3 linked regions of the Homo sapiens genome follow. The protein of the gene in region 3 purifies or fractionates together with the protein of the main gene of each other region. This does not show direct contact. Each region holds a gene or a part of one and is shown on either strand. Other genes may lie near its edges.

Evidence for each region. Proteins that work in one complex are often made in the same cells at the same time.
Region 1: the proteins of SLC16A11 (region 3) and UFSP2 purify together in Homo sapiens (affinity purification with mass spectrometry; 2 studies listed by BioGRID and IntAct, with this or other methods). This does not show direct contact.
Region 2: the proteins of SLC16A11 (region 3) and EMB purify together in Homo sapiens (co-immunoprecipitation; 4 studies listed by BioGRID and IntAct, with this or other methods). This does not show direct contact.

The regions. Positions count from the first base shown.
Region 1 is NC_000004.12:185,422,953-185,430,130, reverse strand, and holds the start of UFSP2 (ufm1-specific protease 2), read left to right. Parts: upstream 1-4,166; 5' UTR 4,167-4,262; coding exon 4,263-4,265; intron 4,266-7,178. Other genes in the region: CFAP96 (cilia-and flagella-associated protein 96), read right to left, coding at 620-719. UniProt on the Homo sapiens protein: Thiol-dependent isopeptidase that specifically cleaves UFM1, a ubiquitin-like modifier protein, from conjugated proteins, such as CD274/PD-L1, CYB5R3, DDRGK1, MRE11, RPL26/uL24, TRIP4 and RPL26/uL24.
Region 2 is NC_000005.10:50,438,277-50,445,239, reverse strand, and holds the start of EMB (embigin precursor), read left to right. Parts: upstream 1-3,951; 5' UTR 3,952-4,088; coding exon 4,089-4,200; intron 4,201-6,963. UniProt on the Homo sapiens protein: Plays a role in the outgrowth of motoneurons and in the formation of neuromuscular junctions.
Region 3 is NC_000017.11:7,041,099-7,048,119, reverse strand, and holds SLC16A11 (monocarboxylate transporter 11), read left to right. Parts: upstream 1-4,027; 5' UTR 4,028-4,345; exon of another isoform or gene 4,346-4,600; 5' UTR 4,601-4,606; coding exon 4,607-4,808; intron 4,809-4,879; exon of another isoform or gene 4,880-5,046; coding exon 5,047-5,190; intron 5,191-5,356; coding exon 5,357-6,124; coding exon of another isoform or gene 6,125-6,189; exon of another isoform or gene 6,190-6,211; coding exon 6,212-6,441; 3' UTR 6,442-6,499; downstream 6,500-7,021. UniProt on the Homo sapiens protein: Proton-linked monocarboxylate transporter. It catalyzes the transport of pyruvate across the plasma membrane.

The DNA of each region.
Region 1 (7,178 bases), on a different chromosome or scaffold from region 3:
AAATGCTGTTTGCATAGGGGAGTGTCCCATCTAACCAAAATATTCTGGGAGAAAACTGCCAGGCACCTTTGAAAAGAAATCAAATTACCTATGAGGACAATAAATTAGGATAGAATACCCTAATAAAACGAGATTCCTATTCTCATAAAATCACCTTCTTGCTGGGTGCTGTGGCTCATGCCTCTTAACCCCAGCACTACGGCACGCTGAGTGGGGAGGGTCTCTTGAGGTCAAGAGTTCAAGACCAGCCTGGGCAACATAGTGAGAGCTCCCCCGCCCTACTCCACAAAGTATTTAAAAATTAGCTGGGCATGGTAGTGTGTGCCTGTAGACTCAGGAGGCTGAAGATGGGAGGAACCCTTGAGCCCAGGAGTTTGAGACTGCAGTGAGCTATAATCAGGCCACTGGCACTCCAGCCTGGGTAACAAAGATCCTGTTTCTAAATAAATAAATAAATGATATCGCTTAACTTCATTGAAATTTTACACGTTAACAAACTTTAGAACTAAATGCTTTAAAATATAAACCATTAAAAAATCATTTGACTTAAATATTAAATTCTAAATTTTATATAGAAAATACCCACTATTCGTCCATAGAGAAAAGCAAATATACTTACGATTAAATTGTGACACATATTTATCACCCACAGTAATATATTCCATCTCACTAAAGAGGCCAATCCTTTCCATGTCCGTTTTTCCTCCTTCCGCAGGCATGGTGGCGTCTGGTGGTGGTACTCTCTATACCGCTAACTTCAAAAGTTTCCCTAGGGTCACGTGTTTTATAGCAAAGTCCTACTTTACATTGAAAATAAAAATAAAGGGGAAAAGTTTAGAAAAAAGTGGTTACTAATTTCCAGTTCTAATTACTTTCAGTCTGAGAGTTTAAGGTTTACTACAAAACAATAGCCTCATACTCCATGGGGAAAGAACCTACTCTGCGGGGTGGGGGAGAATACTGGGATTCAAAATTCTCCAGATGAGCCCTCCCCCTTGACTCTCCGTATGAAGTGCTCACAAATTACAAAGGAATGTACAAGATCTCATCGATTACACTGCCATTTATCTGTTGGAAATGATAAAATTATTACTGTACGGTGTATTATAAACAAATCCTTCTTTTGAGAAGTTCAGGGTAGATTTTAAAATCATAATTATATAAGGCAGACATTTTTACAGTTTAAATACAATGATTTCAGCATCCTGCATTGTCCCTTATGTTGAAAATATAACAGCTTTTCAGGATGTACAACACATTGAGGTATTACCCTACAACTCTTGAGGTTTTTTTCAAGTTTAAATAAACATAATAAGTGTGTCACTGGCAAAATTATAAAGGGAATGGGGAAGAGAACAATTATTTAGGCAAGATAAAAACGAGAACAAAAACAAAAATTCTACAATGAATTCTGAGTATTTGTTAACAGGTATACTTCAACTCTGAGCTTTCTTTGGAAATGACCACTTCAAACAAAGGTGAAATATTAAACATGCAACTCTTTATTTAGAAATTAATTGTTTTAAGACAGAGTCTCTTTTTTTTTTGTTGTTGTTGTTGTTTTTTTTTTTTTTAGACAGTCCCAGGCTGGAGTGCAGTGGCATGTTCTTGGCTCACTATAACCTCCGCCTCCCAGGTTCAAGCGATTCTCCTGCCTCAGCCACCTGAGTAGCTGGATTACAGACACGCGCCACCATGCCCAGCTGTTTTTGTATTTTTAGTAGAGACAGGGTTTAACTATGTTGGCCAGGCTGGTCTCGAACTCCTGGCCTCAAGTGATCCACCCACCTCGGCCTCCCAAAGCGCTGGGATTACAGGCATGAGCCACCGCGCCCGGCCAGAAATTAATTTCTAATAGTAGACATGTTATTTTTAAAAAGGAAGAGGCCCAAGGAGCTAAGAATACTTACCTCTATCCCATTCTAAAGTTTTTAAAGCACCAATTATGAGCTAAGCACTGGGCATACATAAGTGAAGAAAACAAACATTGGGTTAGTCCTCACAGTTTGTAATCCAAAGTAAGAACCATTTTTTTTTTTTTTTTGAGACAGAGTTTCGCTCTTGTAGCCCAGGATGGAGTGCAATAGCGCGATCTCGGCTCACTGCAACCTCCGCTTCCCAGGTTCAAGCGATTCTTCTGCCTCAGCCTCCCAAGTAGCTGGGATTACAGGCGTCTGCCACCACGCCCAGCTAACTTTGTATTTTTTAGTAGAGACGGGGTTTCACCATGTTGGCCAGGCTGGTCTTGAACTCCTGACCTCAGGTGATCCACCTGCCTCGGCTTCCCAAAGTGCTGGGATTACAGGAGTGGGCCACCGCGCCCGGCTGGTAAGAACCTTTTACCTTAAATTTATTTATTTCTTTGCTTATTAAGATGGAGTCTCGCTCTGTCGCCCAGGCTGGAATGCAGAGGCGCTATCTCAGCTCACTGCAACCTCCGCCTCCTGGGTTCAAGGAATTCTCCTGCCGCAGCCTCCCAGGTAGCTGGGACTACGGGCACCTGCCACCACGCCCGGCTGATTTTTGTATTTTTAGTAGAAACGGGGTTTCACCATGTTGGTCAGGCTGGTCTCAAACTCCTGACCTCAAGTGATTCACCTGCCTCGGCCTCCTAAAGTGCTGGGATTTCAGGCGTGAGCCACCGCGCCCGGCCTTTTACCTTAAATTTAAAGCAAGCTGTTTGAGTGCCTCTCTGCAAGCCTGCCTGAAACTGGCTCACCTGAGCATGAATCATTGCTAATACGTAACACCAAAGGGGCAAGTGAAGATTCATTTTAAACTGAAACATAACTAAATACAACGCCCTTCCCCACATCCTACCTCTTCCATTAATCAGAGATGCTTTAAAACCAAACTTCAGTCAAGATTTAGTACTTTCATTTACCTTATATTTCAAAGCTCCACGGCACAAGGGCAGGAGCTGAGACAGGTTCCTCCCTCTCACGGTATCCCCGCATCTGCGCAGCTCCCGGCACACAAGCGAGCCAGGGAGGAGGGAGGGAAGAAATTCTTGCCTAGAACTTTCCCATCACTTAACTTTTTTCTTATTAATTTTTTTTTTTTTTTGAGACGGAGTCTCTCTCTGTTGCCCAGGCTAGGAGTGCAGTGGAGCTGTCTTGGCTCTCTGCAGCCTCCGCCTCCCGGGTTCAAGCGATTCTCCTGTCTCAGCCTCCCGAGTAGCTGGGACTACAAGCACCCGCCACCATGCCCGGCTATTTTTTTTTTTTTTTTTTTTTTTTTTTTTTTTTTTTGGTATTTTTAGTAGAGACAGGGGTTTCACCATTTTGCCCAGGCTGGCCTCGAACTCGTGAGCGCAGGTGATGCGTCTGCCTTGGCCTCCCAAAGTGCTGGGATTACAGGCGTCAGCCACCGCGCCCGGCCCGCCACTACTTAACTCTTATTGAGCAACATTTACAAAATTATTCATTCACTTATTTAACAGATATTCTGCAATCCCCTTCGGGGCAAGCTTGCTGGTAGAAACTAGAAACAGATTTAAGAAGGCATAGATGCTGCCCGCAAGGAGCTTACAATCTATTAGACAAGAAAATAGAGCATAGCCGAATTATGGCACGTTCCCTTGCAAAAGGTACGGATGGAGCGTCAGGAGAGGTGAAGAAGGGGCAGAAAACTGGAGGAGGTGATGAGGAGTCTGTTTCCCAGAGAGGAAACGGAGGCTGGGAGGTGGCAGGTATCTAAGGGGCAACACCTGGCGTCCGCGAGGACCAAGTCACCTTTCTTGAGGACACCCACTCCGACAGCCGAGATCAGGTTGCCCCAGCTCGTCCAGGTTGCCCCAGCTTGTCCACGTTAACTGCGCTGCGGGAGCGGCGAGGGTTCCCAAGCGCGCGACACGCCTGGGCTGCGCAGCGCCTCTGCACGTTCCACCACAGCTGGCGTTTATTGTGTGATGTGTTGCCCCGGGTACGGGAGAATCCATTCCAAGCACGCTGTGGGAGGATACGAGGAGATTCGAATCCGCATCGAAGAACACACAGAAGGATGTGTGAGCTTCTGTAGGACAGAAAAGACTTAACTAATAGAATTTACCAAACATAAGTCTTCGGCTACCCGCCCCGCCTCGCCGTCCGCGAGGGACTGCGGTGTGGTACGCTCCGTGACGTCATGCCGCCGAGCATGTCGGGAGTTGTAGTTGGTCCGCCCGGGCCCCGCCCCTGGGCCGTGCGGTGACACCACTTCAGGGCCGGCCCCCGGAACTTTTGGGCAGGCGTCAGCGCCCGTGTCACCGCCACGTCGCGGACATGGTGAGTATCTCTGCTCGTCACCGACCCCTGTGTTTTTCCCCGGACTTTGGCAGCCGCCACGAGCGGGCTTCACAGCGCCTGAAAGGAGCTGGTCCTGCCGGGGTCCAAGATGGCAGCTGCGAGCTGCGTGGGCAGGGCGGCTCTCCAGTTCGCCTGTCTCCGCGCTGGGCCGGGGGGAAAGTGCCCTACACAAGTGTGCACCCCGCCTCGGCCACCTTGGACACGCACCCCCTGCTACTTCTCTGTGTGAAAGTATTTTGAGAGACTTCGGCGTTTTTGAAGCCTTGCAAGAAGGGCTTAACCTGGGACAGGCGCAACTTTCTTCGGATATTATATTCCCCTAGTTCCCGTGGTATTTCCCTCCCCTGGTTTCTCTCCTGTCTCATTGCTCAGCAAGGTTCTCCAATCCCTATCCTAAATGGTGGTGCTCTTCAGGGACGCTTTACACCCTATGCGTTCTCCTAAAATTTTATCTCTAAGTTAGACCTTTCTTCTGAGCTCCAGACCCACAAATCTGCTAACCGTGCCTCCACTTGGATAGCTCATATGTATTTCAAGCTCAGCAAGTTCCAAACTGAGCATTTCCACTTCCCCACAGCCCACACCTGCTCTTCCTCCAGGAACCCCCAACTCTGTAGATGGCACCACCATACATCCTGTTGTGCCTGCCCAAAACCTGGAAATCATCCTTGACATCTCCCTCTTCTCAACTCCCCGACATGCAGTCAATAATCAAGTCCTATAGATGCTACTTCTAAATGTCTGTCTGTTGTCACTGTCGCCACTCTTACCATCCTTGGCCTTGAGATCTATCCATCTGGGGTAGTCACCTAAGTGGTCTTTTAAGCAGATCTTCACTCATCGATGGCCCTGCCTGGAATGGGCTATTGCACCTTCACTCACCCTTCAGATCTCAGCCTCAGTATTATTTCTTCAGAGAGTATCTCAGCTAATTCGGAAGTCTAGGAAGACTAGTGCTTTTATGAATGATGTCTTGTGGAATCTTCATAACAACCCTGGGAAGTTGTGTATTTTTCCAGTTTTACAGAAGAGAAACAGACTTAAGTGATAAGTTAAATTGTGTAAAATTGTACAGTAAGTAGCAGAGTTAAAATTTGTTCTTTCCTGTCTAACTTTTATCTTCAGTATCTTTAAATATTTTTTATTTAAATGGGTACATACTAGTTTGTTTGGTAGTATTCTTTATTTAACTGATTTCTTATTAATAGCTATTTAAGTGGTTTCCATTTATTTTTCTGTGATGAACAACGGTAGAATAAATGGACAACATGAAGCTAAATTTGTCCTGAACTTTCTTGATTGTTTCCTTAGAATAAATTCTCAGAAGTAGAATTGGGACAAAGGGTATATGATCTTTCAAAAGATTACAATTTTAGAATAAATAAAAACAGTGACCCTTATAGAAATGTGACAAAGGATTTGTAAAATGAGAAAAACTGTATTGGTACCTATTTAATACTGTTCTGAGGATTGGAGTAAGTATGTATGTTTAGCATAGTGCCTTTTACATGTTTTTGTTTTATTTTATTTTGTTTTTTGGAGACAAGATCTTGCTCTGTTGCTTAGGCTGGAGTGCAGTGGTGTGATCATGGCTCACTGTAGCATTGACCTCCCCGGCCCAAGCAGTCCTCCCACCTTAACCTCCCGAGTAGCTGGACTACAGGTGCAGACCACCACACTCAGCTAATTTTTTTTTTTTTTTTTGGTAGAGATGGGGGTCTTCCTATGTTGCCCAGTCTGGTCTCTAACTCCTGGGCTCAAAGTGATCCTCCTGCCTCTGCCTCCCAAAGTGTTGGGATTACAGGCGTGAGCCACTGCACCCTGCCTGTGTTTTACATTTGAAGAGCTCAGTAAATGTTAGTACTTATTCATTTATTTCAAAATAGGGGTCTTAGTGTGTACTATGGTTCTTCAGCCTGTTTGAGAGATATGTTTTGAGAGTCTCATGAAATTTTTGAAACCTCTTCCCAAAAGAAATCTCCCGCTCTCTTTCTCCCTTCCTGTCTCTTTCTCTCGTGTGTGTGTGTGTGTATATATGTATGTATATATGTATGAATATGTGTATCTGTGTGTGTATATATGTGTACACAAACAATGATACATGTCATTTGTGATATATCATCAACTACCTGAAACAGTATATGGATCCAAGTAAAGAACTGATTAGTTCCATTTTGCAAGTGCTCTTTTCCCTTTATAAGTTGTAAGCATTGTCCTGTGCCTTTTAATTTTCAGCAAAAACATGATTTTTTTATGGCTATATGATATTCCTATTTTTTTTAACCAATCTATTGTTGGCAGTTAGGTTAATATCCATGTACCCGAATCTTTGTGTGTTTTTCAGATTTTTCTTAGACTAAGTCTGAGATTCTAAATGCATATCACTAGATCAAGCCTATGAATATAAACCTTTGATTCTTACTGCCATATTCTCTGAAGGATTCCACCAGTTGATATCCCACCCTCAGTATGAGTTTCCTCTCATTGTCTTGACTCCCTGGTATTATATTAGGTTCAGTGCCTTGTCACATTCTTAAACTAGTTCTTTACTGTTGATGTTTTATTGTCATTGTTAAACCTGTCAAGATTATAATTTGGAAAGATTGTCTTAAAGCAGTAGTTCTCAACCATTCACATTAGAATCACTGGCATGGGGGCATAGGATACTTTTAAATATCCCTGTGCCAGCTGGGCGCGGTGGCTCACGCCTGCAATCCCAGCACTTTGGGAGGCCGAGACAGGCGGATCACTTGAGGCCAGGAGTTCAAGACCAGCCTGGCCAATATTCTGAGATCCCGTCCTTACTAAAAATACAAAAATTAGCCAGGCGTGGTGGTGTATGCCTGTAATCTCAGCTACATGGGAGGCTGAGGCAGGAGAATCTCTTACACC
Region 2 (6,963 bases), on a different chromosome or scaffold from region 3:
AGACGGGGTTTCACCATATTGGCCAGGCTGGTCTCGAGCTCCTGACCTTGTGATCTGCCTGCCTCAGCCTCCCAAAGTGCTGGAATTACAGGCGCGAGCCACCACGCCTGGCCAGCCCACACAGTATCTCTTCAGCAATATTCAGTAGGTTAGGGGAGTCAAAGAGCCCACCCAACTCAAGGGGAGAAAACAAAGGACCCTTATTCCCCCTTTATACGCTTCATGATGAGAGTATCAAAGTGCTTGTTGCAATATTTATTTCACCAAGGAGGAAAAGGTCAATTTGGACCAGAAAGGTCAGAAAAAGTTTCCCCCGTCTGGGTATCTCCAATTCTTCTATCCCTGGTTCACCTCAGAGTATTGCAGTTCTGAGAACCAGTGCATTCTGGATTCATTGTAGAACTTTGATTCTCTACTTGACTGTATGTCAGAATCACCAGAGAGCTTGAAAAATCCTGATACCTGGATCTTTTCCCGCAAAACTCTGGTTCATTTGGCTTGGGATTCAGTGTGGGCATTAAGGAGTTTCATCAGCTCTCCATGTAGCTTTAAATGTGATTTTAAGCTGGTTAAAAACCACAGCTTTAAAATGATATGGCCTAGACAGTGCACTGTTAGGTAAATACTTATTCCATAGGCATCAGGGTTAAGTTGATATGCAGAGAAGATCTCTAAAGAGAAAAAAAAAAAAAAAGGTAGGAAACAAATGAAAGTGGAATAAATGAAGGTGTAAATCAATAAGATGAATGGGGGAGGGGATGTCACTCTACGTATATGGTATAAGTTCTGCTCTTTTAGCTCCACGTAAGCTAAAATTGTGGAATAATGTACAAGACAAAAGTTATGAAGTTAGCATCGAATTTAAGCCAGAATTAAAAATTGTCAGGCACTCTCAGCTTGTTTTCTAGATTCGGTATTGATCTCTGCGAAATTCAGTTTTCTCTTTGCCAAAGGATATTGTGAGGTTTACTGGATATTTTTGACCTAGATGTATAGGCCTACATACTTGGACACAGGTTGTCTGTTAACCTAAGACTTTGAGTCAAATTTTAATAATAAGAATAGTTATAAATGTATAGCCCTATGAGTTAGCATTTTTTTAGTTCCAGCTGAAAAAAGAAAAAAGAATTGTCTAGAACATTTTTCTCTCTTCTGGGTATCCCCAGTACTTCTATCCCTGAGTTGCAATCCACTAATATTATTATTTATTTGATGCTCAATTTGTCCCAGATTTGTCCAGTGGGAACCCCTTTAAATGTCCTTAAAGGTAAAAACTGCCAGCATGTTCTACTGAGATATGGACTAACAATGTCAGACATATGTGGGTGCTTGAATAGTATTTGCTTCAAAAATATTTATTACTAGAAAGCTGCTGTGTTTGGGGTGAGAGGTTAGTAGGGAAGGGGGTTCATAAAGGGAATGCAAAAGCCACGTCCTCTGGAAGTTAAAGGATCATTTTAAATGATTCTACTGCAAACATTTTTCAAAAGATAAACATGACCCATTTCTCCAATTTGTGTCATGTAATAGTAATAATAATGATATTTAAATACTCCCACTGATATGTCCTTTACAAAGATATATTATATGTCTTATTTAATCAAAAAACCTTAAAAGAGTCCCTGTACCTAATTTTATTCCAGGACTCAAACTGTGTCAGCATGTCATTCAGTGCAAATCAGACATTTAGATGCATAGGCTATGCTGTCAGTAGTTCTGAACTTTCATAGACATTTCCAATTAGCTCGGAGAGACAACTGGATATTGTGTTTAAGCACTGTGTTTAGGAAAACAGGCACTGGATGGACCAATGCCAAATTTCCTGCTCTGCTGCTTAACTAAGTATGTGTAATTACTTGGGCAATTACTTAAGCAATTACTTGGGCAATTACTTAAGCCAATCCCCAATTTCTTCGTCTTGAGCCCAGAAGGTCAAGGCTGCAGTGAGCCGTGAATGTGCCTCTGCCCTCCAGCCTGAGCGACAGAGTGAGAATTCCCCAGGAGTGCAGAGGTTCTCAGAACTGCAATACTCTGAGATGAATTTTGAAAGGTGAATCAGGGATAGAAAAAGTTATATAGGGAAGGCAGTCAATAAGCTTGTTTTAAAGGATATGGAGCATTTGAAAAAGTGGAATGTACATAAGGCTGGAAATATCAAATATCTAAATATAGAACAGGAACAGTGATGAAAAGACTTTCAAAATGCTTAGCAAAATGAGAATTATATTTCTTTCTCAACTCTTTTGTTCCAACAGCAAAAGCAACAGTGGGGATCAGCATCAACTTGGGTAAGTAAGTTTTTCTGGTCATAAATAGGCTGATTCAACTGAAAAAAATGTTTCTTTAAGAAGGGTGAATTTGTGTCTAAGGATTTTATGAGACTAACTGGGAAAAGTCAGTCAGAGTTTAGTTTGAGGTGAGAAGTGCTTACTGTTGACACTCTACCTAATTATAGGGAAATGTGTGCAGTTAGTCCTGAGACCAGATGCAGGGTTGAAAGAAAGAGGTGTGATGTAGCAGCCATTGATTAGGCAATTTGGGTTTAGCAAGCCCAGTCAATGCCCTCAGAGGGTCAACAGTGTATAAGATTTAGTCCTTGAAGGCATCTTTTAAAGTTTCATTCAGAAGATTTTAATAATTTTGACCATAATTTTCTGAGAAGAGGCTTTTCTGAGATTTGTCATTCACAGATAAACAGTTGTCTAATTTGTGTGTGTGTGTGTGTACATGTGTGCATGCGTGCATTTGTGCATGTGTGCCTATCTAGCCTCTTTTGAACACAATGGTAGATTGGCACCTGGTAGATAATATTGTTGAATGAATTGTATTATTCATATTATCTCACTGCCAATTTGAAGAATCTACATTCTGTTTCCAAAGTTTTGTGCATATAATACTAAACCAGAAACAGACGTGTTTTAGTAATACGTACCAATTACAAATTAACCATTCCTGCCTGGAATAAACACAGGTTTTGTTAAATAGCTCAATTTTCAAAATTTGTCTCATGTTATTTCCAATCCTTTTTTTTTTAACGCCGATATATTTTGAATTTACGAATGTGAAAGCTGAACTTCAAAAAAATAAAGGGAGAGGAAACAAAGCTCGTGAAAAATTTTAAAAATATCTTTTAATGCGTTATAACATCCTGGAGAGAAATCAAATCAATGTGTTTCAATGTTACAATATAGATTTCTCCTCCCCTCCCGGATAAAGCACTAATTTATTTAATTTGGTTCAGAGCACTGAATATTCCAAGCTACAGCCTTGTGGGTAAGAGCATTATCTTAAAGAGTGTTCGGATTTAACAAAGGTCAATGTCTTGTGCAGTTTACATAGTATCTACTCTCAGTAGCTTTTGCTTCTTGAGCTCTAGGTGGCTCCTCAGAAGCTGTTAGGCTTAACAAACAAAAATAAAGTAAAATCAGACACGGTATGGGGCCTTGGGACTCTAAAACCTTCATCCGGAGAAAATCAGTTAAGCCTTCAGAGACTAGAAGAGAGAATGTGTGTGATTGGTAGGCAAAGCAAAGAAAGATTAACACAAGTTGTCTGGCAGCTGGATAAAACCTTACACCTGCGCAAAAATAAGCCTCCCTCGTAAGAAAGCCCAAAGATGTCCGGGGTCCGGGAGGAGAAAAGTGTTTCTCATCTGTCCCATCAAAGCAAATTAGTGAAACCTGCCTCAGGTGAAGTGCAAAGGCCAGTCTGTAGGCAGAGTTTCGACCTCTCCCCACGAGATTGGCTAGACATCACCTGCCCAAGCTCTCTCCCGACCTGCTAGAGCCGAGAGGGCGGAGGCCGGAGAGGCTGCAGCCGGGAAGTAGCACCGCCACCGCACATCCGGGAACGCCAGCAGCCGGCTGAGGGCTGCATAACTGATGGAGGGCCGGGCGCGGTAAGAGCGTCTCGGGGGAGTGGGGCAAGGCGGCCGGGCCCCTCCCATTCCGCCTTTTCTTCAGCGTCCTACCCGCGGCACTGGCTGCGAGCGCCGGGCCACCTGCGAGTGTGCGCAGGGACTCTGGACACCCGCGGCGGCGAGCTGAGGGAGCAGTCTCCACGAGGACCCAGGCGGACCCTCTGGCGCCATGCGCGCCCTCCCCGGCCTGCTGGAGGCCAGGGCGCGTACGCCCCGGCTGCTCCTCCTCCAGTGCCTTCTCGCTGCCGCGCGCCCAAGCTCGGCGGACGGCAGTGCCCCAGGTGTGATGGGTACAGGGTCCAGGGTAGGGAGGGCGGAGGGCGCGCGAGGCTCGGGTCCCCGCGGGCAGAGGGCATCGCCGGCGCGCCGGGCAAGGGTGGCGGGGAGAGGCGCGGGGATGCTGGTAAGGGCGGGTGGGAGAGTCGGCGGCGGCCTCCCATTAGCTACGTTTGTGTCACCTAAGCTGAACCCTGAAACTGCTGCGGCTCGCGTTCCTGCGCTCTTTGGGGCGAGTCTTGAACGAACAGCGCCCCGCGAGTCGGGCGCGTAGGTAACAGGGCAGAGTCTGGTTTTTCCTAGGAAGAAGGCAGTGGGGTGTGTGGGTGGTTGCAGGGACCAGCTAGCGACTTGGCTTGGGCAAATATGGCATGAATTTTGAAAGCCACATTTCCCCAAGGCCTACTCCCTTTTCTTGATTCGAGAGTAAGGCTCGAGTATCACCTCCTTCCCTCCTCTTGGCAGGTGGGTTGGCTTTGAGGATTTTTTTTTTTTTTTTTTTTTTTTTTTTGAGACGGAGTTTTACTCTTGTTGCCCAGGCTGGAGTGCAATGGCGTGATCTCGGCTCACCGCAACCTCCTCCTCCCGGGTTCAAGCGATTCTCCTCTGTCAGCCTCCAGAGTAGCTGGGATTACAGGCATGCGCCACCACGCCGGGCTAATTTTATATTTTTAGTAGAGACTGGGCTTCTCCACATTGGTCAGTCTGGTCTCGAACTCCCAACCTGAGGTGATCCGCCCGCTTCGGCCTCCCAAAGTGCTGGGATTACAGGCGTGAGCCACCTCACCTTGCCGAGGATGTTTTTTTAGAGCTGAGTAGGGGAAAAAACATCATAACCAACTAGCCAACCAAAGATCCACAACTTACAGGATAACGTGTGTGTATCTTCATTTTACACCGTGGTCTTTGAAAACAAAATGTGTGTGTGCATGTGTGTGTGTGTATGTGTGAGATTTTTGCTTGTTGTTTTATTGTTTAAGACACTTTGACAGAGGGATTACGTGCAAAACATTAACAAAGCCAACACGAAAGTTGCCATTCTACCTTCACCTGTTTATAATTACTTTTCATATTGAAAGGATTCCATCCAACCTATTGCAAGTTTCTGTGTCATAAATGTTACCAGCCAGTAAGGGTAATAAAAGACCACCTCTCAAGCTGGTAAATATTGGCCACCAGTAACTAAAATTGGGACATTATTCTGCAAAAAGTTTTCAAACTCTCATGGGAATTTATTTTCATGGGCTTGTAAGATGTGGAATTTTTGTAACACACCATAGAGAAGGAAGGATAATCAAAAGGTAAGACTATTAATTTTTATAAATGCCTTTTAAAACGTCTAGTTGTTAACAACTTGGACAGAACATCGTGGGTTCCTTCGCAGATTTCCTTGTGCCACATCTCTTTTCCATAATACCACTTATAAAGAATTGTCCAGGCCTGTAATCCCAGCACTTTTGGGCGCTGAGGTGGGAGGATGGCTGGAATCCAGGAGTTCAAGACCACCCCGGGCAACATAGCAAGGTCCCTTCTTTATTAAAAAAAAAAAAAAAAAAATTAAAAGTGCGGTTGTGGTGATGTACACCAGTAGTCCCAGGTGCTTGGGATGCCAAGGCAGAAAGATTGCTTCAGTCCAAAGTTTGAGGCTGCAGTGAGCTATGATGGTGATGGTGCCACTAAGCTCCAGCCTGGGTGACAGTGCAAAACTGTCTCAAAAAAAAAGAAAGAAAAAGAAACAGAATTGTCCAGGACATTTTTCCCCCTTCTGGGTATCTCCAATTCTTCTATCCCTGGTTCACCTCAGAGTATTGCAGTTCTGAGAACCAGTGCATTCTGGATTCATTGTAGAACTTTGATTCTCTACTTGACTGTATGTCAGAATCACCAGAGAGCTTGAAAAATCCTGATACCTGGATCTTTTCCCGCAAAACTCTGGTTCATTTGGCTTGGGATTCAGTGTGGGCATTAAGGAGTTTCATCAGCTCTCCATGTAGCTTTAAATGTGATTTTAAGCTGGTTAAAAACCACAGCTTTAAAATGATATGGCCTAGACAGTGCACTGTTAGGTAAATACTTATTCCATAGGCGTCAGGGTTAAGTTGATATGCAGAGAAGATCTCTAAAGGAAAAAAAAAAAAAAAGGTAGGAAACAAATGAAAGTGGAATAAATGAAGGTGTAAATCAATAAGATGAATGGGGGAGGGGATGTCACTCTATGTATATGGTATAAGTTCTGCTCTTTTAGCTCCACGTAAGCTAAAATTGTGGAATAATGTACAAGACAAAAGTTATGAAGTTAGCATCGAATTTAAGCCAGAATTAAAAATTGTCAGGCACTCTCAGCTTGTTTTCTAGATTCGGTATTGATCTCTGGGAAATTCATTTTTCTCTTTGCCAAAGGATATTGTGAGGTTTACTGGATATTTTTGACCTAGATGTATAGGCCTACATACTTAGACACAGGTTGTCTGTTAACCTAAGACTTTGAGTCAAATTTTAATAATAAGAATAGTTATAAATGTATAGCCCTATGAGTTAGCATTTTTTTAGTTCCAGCTGAAAAAAGAAAAAAGAATTGTCTAGAACATTTTTCTCCTTTCTGGGTATCCCTAATTCTTCTATCCCTGATTCACCTTTCAAAATTCATCTCAGAGTATTGCAGTTCTGAGAACCTCTGCACTCCTGGGGAATTCTCACTCTGTCGCTCAGGCTGGAGGGCAGAGGCACATTCACGGCTCACTGCAGCCTTGACCTTCTGGGCTCAAGAT
Region 3 (7,021 bases):
AAATACAAAAAAATTAGCTGAGTGTGGTGGCGGGCACCTGTAATCTCAGCTACCTGGGAGGCTGAGGCTGGAGAATTCACTTGAACCTGGGAGGCAGAGGTTGTGGTGAACCTAGATTGTACCACTGCACTCCAGCCTGGGCAATAGAGCAAGACTCTGTCTCAAAAAAAAAAGAAAAAAAAAAAAAAAGAAAGAAAATAGCGGCAATGAGCTCTAACACGTATACTTTGGCACTGTTCTAAGTTCCTTACTTATATGTGTATTCACAGTGACTCATTTAATTCTTATAACAACCCATCAGGTAGCTACTGTTATTACCCCCATTGTAGAGATGAGGAAACCGAGGCACAGAGAGGTTGAGTCACACTTGCTCATAATCATATAGTTACTAAGTGGTAGAGTGTGGGCGAAAGATTACGTAGATGCCGAGGCAAGAGACTGAAGGCACAAACTGTTTCAGTGTAATAAAGAAAATAGAATAAAAATAGTCATAATACAAATGAGATATAGAGATGATCATGGACAATTATCAATCATTATTATAGACATTATTAATCATTAGCTTTTAATATTACTTTTTGTTGCATTACTAATATAACCTACGAATAACCGGCAGGTATAGGGTCAGGTGATGAAGGGACATTGTGAGAAGTGACCTAGAAGGCAAGAGGTGAACCTTCTGTCACGCTCGCATAAGGGCCGCTTGAGGGCTCCTTGGTCAAGCGGTAACGCTAGTGCCTGGGAAGACACCCATCACTTAGCAGATCGCGAAAAGGAGTGTCCTTTCCTTGGAGGAGTCAGGGAACACTCTGCTCCAGCAGCTTCTTGTGGAAGGCTGGATATTATCCAGGCCTCCCCGCAGTCATCCGGAGGCCTAAACCCCTCCCTGTGGGGCTGTGCTTCAATGCTCACGCTCCTTGTCCACTTTCATGTTCCTCCCGTACTCCTGGTTCCTCTTTGAAGTTCGTAGTACAGAGCGGTAGATGAAATAGTGAAAGTCTAAAGTCTTTGATCTTTCTTATCAGTGCATAGAAGAAAACGCTGACGTATGCTGCCTTCTGTCTCTACTTCGGCTACCTAAAAGGGAAGGGCCCTCCCGTCCTGTGATCACGTGACTTGCTGCACCTTGTCAATCACTTAGAAGATTCACCCTCCTTACCCTGCCCCCTTGTCTTGTATGCAATAAATATCAGCGCAACCAGCCGTTCGGGGCCACTACCGGTCTCCGCGTCTTGATGGTAGTGGTTCCCAGGGCCCAGCGTCTTTTCTTCTATCTCTTTGGCTTGTGTCTTTATTTGTTACAATCTCTCATCTCCGCACACGGGGAAAACACCCGCCAAGCCCCGTAGGGCTAGACCCTACAGTAGAGCTGGCATTCAACCTCAAGAAATCTAGCTTGGGAGTCCATTCTCCTAATCTCTGTGCTATTTTACCTCCGTGAGCAAAAGATGACAAGTTTTGCTAAGAATATAGGGAGCCTGAGGTAGAAGAGGAATGTGCTCTTTCACAGCCCTAGTCCCAGGCTCTGGGATACCCTTCTGGCTTCGTAAGCATCCTGCGAAGGTGCGCAGCATCACTTAGCACAACTCCCAGATGCGGAGGGCCCGGTCTTCGCTCTGACTGTCCTGCATTTCTGCGTCACCATGGGGAGACAGTGATTCGTTTAGCTTGGAGCAGAGTCTTCAGCAGCCTTCTCAGGAAGCGGGATCCCTGCCCTCCCCGGTAGCTGAGGACCTGCTGGCTCCGCCTCCCTGGTGGCTTTCATAACAGCACTCCAGGCTGGGGAAACCGGTGGGGCCACTTTCCTAAGGTGTGTCTGTCAGGACCTTCATGAACAACAGGACGTTTCAAGCAGAGAGCATGACATATGCAAAAATTAAGGAGTGAGAAAAAGCTAGGCATGTCCACAGAGCAGAGAAGACAGTGGCTGATGGGAGGCTGGCAAAAGGGAGAGAGGGGAGATGGTTTGGAACGGTAACCTAGGTCTACCTTTGATTATTGTAAAAGACCTGTACAAATAGAGAAATGTAATTTTTCCCGTCTATAGGCAATGGAGAGCCATTGCCTATAGTCATGCTGTGTCTTTTATGTTTACAGTTTTGCTCCTTAAGAAGCTGTTTTTCTTGTCTTTACGTGCAGATTCTTTCCCAATAATTAGGAAACACTGCCATCATGTGGCTCAATGGATGCATGCTCCAAACTTAAGTTGCTGAATGTTCTATCATATTGTTTAATAATTAAACCAAAGAACACATCTCTGAATTCAAAGAGCTGAGGTAAAGAATGTCAACCTATCAAAAAAGGACATTTTCTATAAAGTTTTTCAAAAAATCAATACCTGGCTTCAATGACCTGATTTTTTACTTTGCTTTTAAAATTGTAACCTGGCCAGGCATGGTAGACTGTAATCCCAGCACTTTGGGAGTCCGAGGTGGAAGGATTGCTTAAGTCCAGGAGCTTGAGACCAGCCTGTGCAACATGCTGTGACCCCCTCTCTACAAAAAAAATGAACAAATTTAGCCAGGCATGGTGGTGTGGAGCCTGTAGTCCTCGCTACTCGGGAGGCTGAGGTGGAGTATTGCTTGAGCCTGGGAGGTGGAGGCTGCAGTGAGCCATAATGGCAGTACTACACTTCAGCCTGGACAAGACCCTGTCTCTATAAATAAATACACACACACATACATACATACATACATACATACATACATACATACATACATAATAAAAAATAAAATTCTAACCTAAGTGTTTAGAGATTCTGATCTCAAGAATCCTTTCTATTCCCAGTGACCCCTTATTTTAGACTCATAAGTTTTCTGTCCCTGCAATGGTTCCACCCTTTCCAGGGCAGTTTGCTTCAAGCTGTATCCAGGATCTTTCCCTTAACTGTGCCAGATTTTGTTTCAGTCCTGGGATTGTTCTCCTTGTAGGTCCACAGTTGGACAGACCTAAATTCAAATATCCATACCATTTTTTCCCTGAGAGCTTCAGTTACTGCATCTATAAAAGAGGCACGACATCGGCCAGGCGCGTTGGCTCACTCCTGTAATCCCAGCACTTTGGGAGGCCGAGGTGGGCGGATCATCTGAGGTCAGGAGTTCCAGACCAGCCTGGCCAACATGGCGAAACCCCATCTCTACTAAAAAATACAAAAATTAGCTGGGAGTGGTGGCAGGCGCCCGTAATCCCAGCTACTCAGGAGGCTGAGGCAGGAGAATGGCTTGAACTTAGGAGGCAGAGGTTGCAATGAGCCGAGATCTCGCCACTGTACTCCAGCCTGGGCTACAGAGTGAAACTCCATCTAAAAAAAAAAAAAAAGAAAAGCGACACCTTCTTCATAGGGTTATCATAAGATGAAGTGATAGCATGTGTAAACGGTGCCTGGTACACTGCAGGTCTTCACATTGAGGGAGTCGTGTTTCATCCCTCTGTCCTTGAGGACCTGTTATTTTATTTTATTTATTTTATTTTTGTTTATTTATTTATTTTTGAGACAGAGTCTTTCTCTGTCACCCAGGCTGGAGTGCAGTGGCATGATCTTGGCTCACTGCAACTTCTGCCTCCCGGGTTCAAGCGATTCCCCGCCTCAGCCTCCCAAGTAGCTGGGACTACAGGCGCCCGCCACCACACCCGGCTAATTTTTTTTGTATTTTTAGTAGATATGGTGTTTCGCCATGTTGGTCAGGCTGGCCTCGAACTCCTGACGTCAGGTGATTCACCCACATCGGCCTCCCAAAGTGCTGGGATTACAGGCTTGCACCGCGCCCGGCCTGGGGGTCTGTTATTCTAAGCACAGAGCTGGCACTTGGTGGAGGTCTGTGATCTGATTGATATCCGAGATTTACCTGGTCCTCGGCAACGTTCCTGAGAACAAAACTACTCATCCCCTCAGGTTTTGGGGACCATCCCTATTTCCACGCGTTGGCGGTGGACCCTGGGCTCGCTGGGGTTTGCAATCCACGTGTCTCCCCTGCGCGCAGCAGGCGGCAGGTGCATGCGTGTGAGTAGGGCAGGGCCCCTCTGCATTCATTTCTCGCCGCTCCCCCCTCCCCCGGGCCTGGGGGTTGTGTGTGTACATAATTCAATCCCCGTGGGACTGGCGTCTGGCCTCACGCGCGGCTTGCCGGATTGGCTGTTTCAGCTCGCCCCCGCCCTCCGTACACCCCGCGTCCCAGGTGGCTCAGGCCCCTGTGGTGATCTCTGTTTACCGAGAGAGCCCGTCCAAGTTGGGCTCCATCGCTGCCCTCGCTCCCCTTCGGGGCCCCCGCCCGCCTGGGAAGCAGAGAGAAAGCCGGGCCCAGCCCTTCCTCACCCTTCCCCTCCCCGCACCGCCCGGAGAGGTCGGGTAAGGGGGAAGGAGTGTGCGTGGGACGGGGAACCTCGGGCCTGGGGATCTGGCTGTCCCCGTCCCCGTACCTCGCGCGGACCCGGGAGTTCCAGCCCTAGGCCAGGCTCCGGCTCCCTCCGCCCCGCGCCATCGCGCTCGGAGTGACGGGCCCACCCCGGGCGAGCAGCCAGAGGCTGGATCTCAGGGATGCCAGCTCCCCAGCGGAAGCACAGGCGTGGAGGCTTCTCTCACAGATGTTTCCCCACCCCGCAGACGGCGATGACCCCCCAGCCCGCCGGACCCCCGGATGGGGGCTGGGGCTGGGTGGTGGCGGCCGCAGCCTTCGCGATAAACGGGCTGTCCTACGGGCTGCTGCGCTCGCTGGGCCTTGCCTTCCCTGACCTTGCCGAGCACTTTGACCGAAGCGCCCAGGACACTGCGTGGATCAGCGCCCTGGCCCTGGCCGTGCAGCAGGCAGCCAGTGAGGGGGGCCCTGAGGCGGGAGACAGGAACGGGGAGGAGGAGCCGTGAGTGGAGGGATGGGAGACCCACCTGATTACCCGACAACCTGAGAAAGGGCAACCGGCTCTAGAAAAGAGTGCATCTTGAGGTCAAGGAGAAGAACCATTAGTTCGAGGGAGGCAAACAGCCAATGAGAAGTGTTGGAGAGAGTTTGGGGGCCCGGGGGCGTGTCTTCCGTTGACTCCGCCCCCTTTCAGGCCCCGTGGGCAGCGCCCTGAGCACGCGCTGGGGGGCCCGCCCCGTGGTGATGGTTGGGGGCGTCCTCGCCTCGCTGGGCTTCGTCTTCTCGGCTTTCGCCAGCGATCTGCTGCATCTCTACCTCGGCCTGGGCCTCCTCGCTGGTGAGGGAAGTGGGATGCCCGGGTCATTCAGGGTGAAGGAGGTGACAGGAGCTTGTTGGGATCTGGGGTAGCGAACGAGGCGGGGGCCTGGTGCGGAGAGCCGGGCTGGGAATGCTGGGGCGGGCGTCCCCAGTGCCGGCCCCCATCCCCTCCTATTCATTCGCAGGCTTTGGTTGGGCCCTGGTGTTCGCCCCCGCCCTAGGCACCCTCTCGCGTTACTTCTCCCGCCGTCGAGTCTTGGCGGTGGGGCTGGCGCTCACCGGCAACGGGGCCTCCTCGCTGCTCCTGGCGCCCGCCTTGCAGCTTCTTCTCGATACTTTCGGCTGGCGGGGCGCTCTGCTCCTCCTCGGCGCGATCACCCTCCACCTCACCCCCTGTGGCGCCCTGCTGCTACCCCTGGTCCTTCCTGGAGACCCCCCAGCCCCACCGCGTAGTCCCCTAGCTGCCCTCGGCCTGAGTCTGTTCACACGCCGGGCCTTCTCAATCTTTGCTCTAGGCACAGCCCTGGTTGGGGGCGGGTACTTCGTTCCTTACGTGCACTTGGCTCCCCACGCTTTAGACCGGGGCCTGGGGGGATACGGAGCAGCGCTGGTGGTGGCCGTGGCTGCGATGGGGGATGCGGGCGCCCGGCTGGTCTGCGGGTGGCTGGCAGACCAAGGCTGGGTGCCCCTCCCGCGGCTGCTGGCCGTATTCGGGGCTCTGACTGGGCTGGGGCTGTGGGTGGTGGGGCTGGTGCCCGTGGTGGGCGGCGAAGAGAGCTGGGGGGGTCCCCTGCTGGCCGCGGCTGTGGCCTATGGGCTGAGCGCGGGGAGTTACGCCCCGCTGGTTTTCGGTGTACTCCCCGGGCTGGTGGGCGTCGGAGGTGTGGTGCAGGCCACAGGGCTGGTGATGATGCTGATGAGCCTCGGGGGGCTCCTGGGCCCTCCCCTGTCAGGTAAGGACCTGAGCTCACAGATCTGCCTACAACTATCCTCTGCCCCTGGGGTTCGAGGCTTCTAAATGCCCTTACCCATCTCCTCAGGCTTCCTAAGGGATGAGACAGGAGACTTCACCGCCTCTTTCCTCCTGTCTGGTTCTTTGATCCTCTCCGGCAGCTTCATCTACATAGGGTTGCCCAGGGCGCTGCCCTCCTGTGGTCCAGCCTCCCCTCCAGCCACGCCTCCCCCAGAGACGGGGGAGCTGCTTCCCGCTCCCCAGGCAGTCTTGCTGTCCCCAGGAGGCCCTGGCTCCACTCTGGACACCACTTGTTGATTATTTTCTTGTTTGAGCCCCTCCCCCAATAAAGAATTTTTATCGGGTTTTCCTGAAACCTCCAACTGTTCACCAATCTAGGACCCTGAAAATATTCTACATAAGACAGCCAGAAAGGCTGGTTCAAAGGAACAGGATCCCAGAAGGCCCTGGGTATGAAGAAGGGTGACTGTCCAGCCAATCCATTTCTCTTTGCCCAAGTCCTGGCCGTAACAGGGAATCTTTGCGAAGTTGTCTGGCAGCCAGTTTCAGTGTGTTGCTGGGGTTGGGGGCGGGTTGCTAGTGGGTGCTATCTGCCCCATCTTCATGTCCCTTACCCTAGTTCCCAGACCTCCCAGACTTAACTCTTCCCTGCATTTCAATCTCCTTCTATGGGCCTGAGGGAAATACAAGAATCCTAGGCCCAGACTTCAGCTCTATCAAAGCTATTCACACATCTATACCCTGTGTCCTCAGCATTCTCTCAATTTCTTTTCTTTCCTTCTTTTTTTTTTTTTTTTTTTTTTTGAGACAGAGTCTCCCTCTGTTGCCCAGGCTGGAGTGCAGTGGCGCGATCTTGGCTCACAGCAACCTCCGCCTC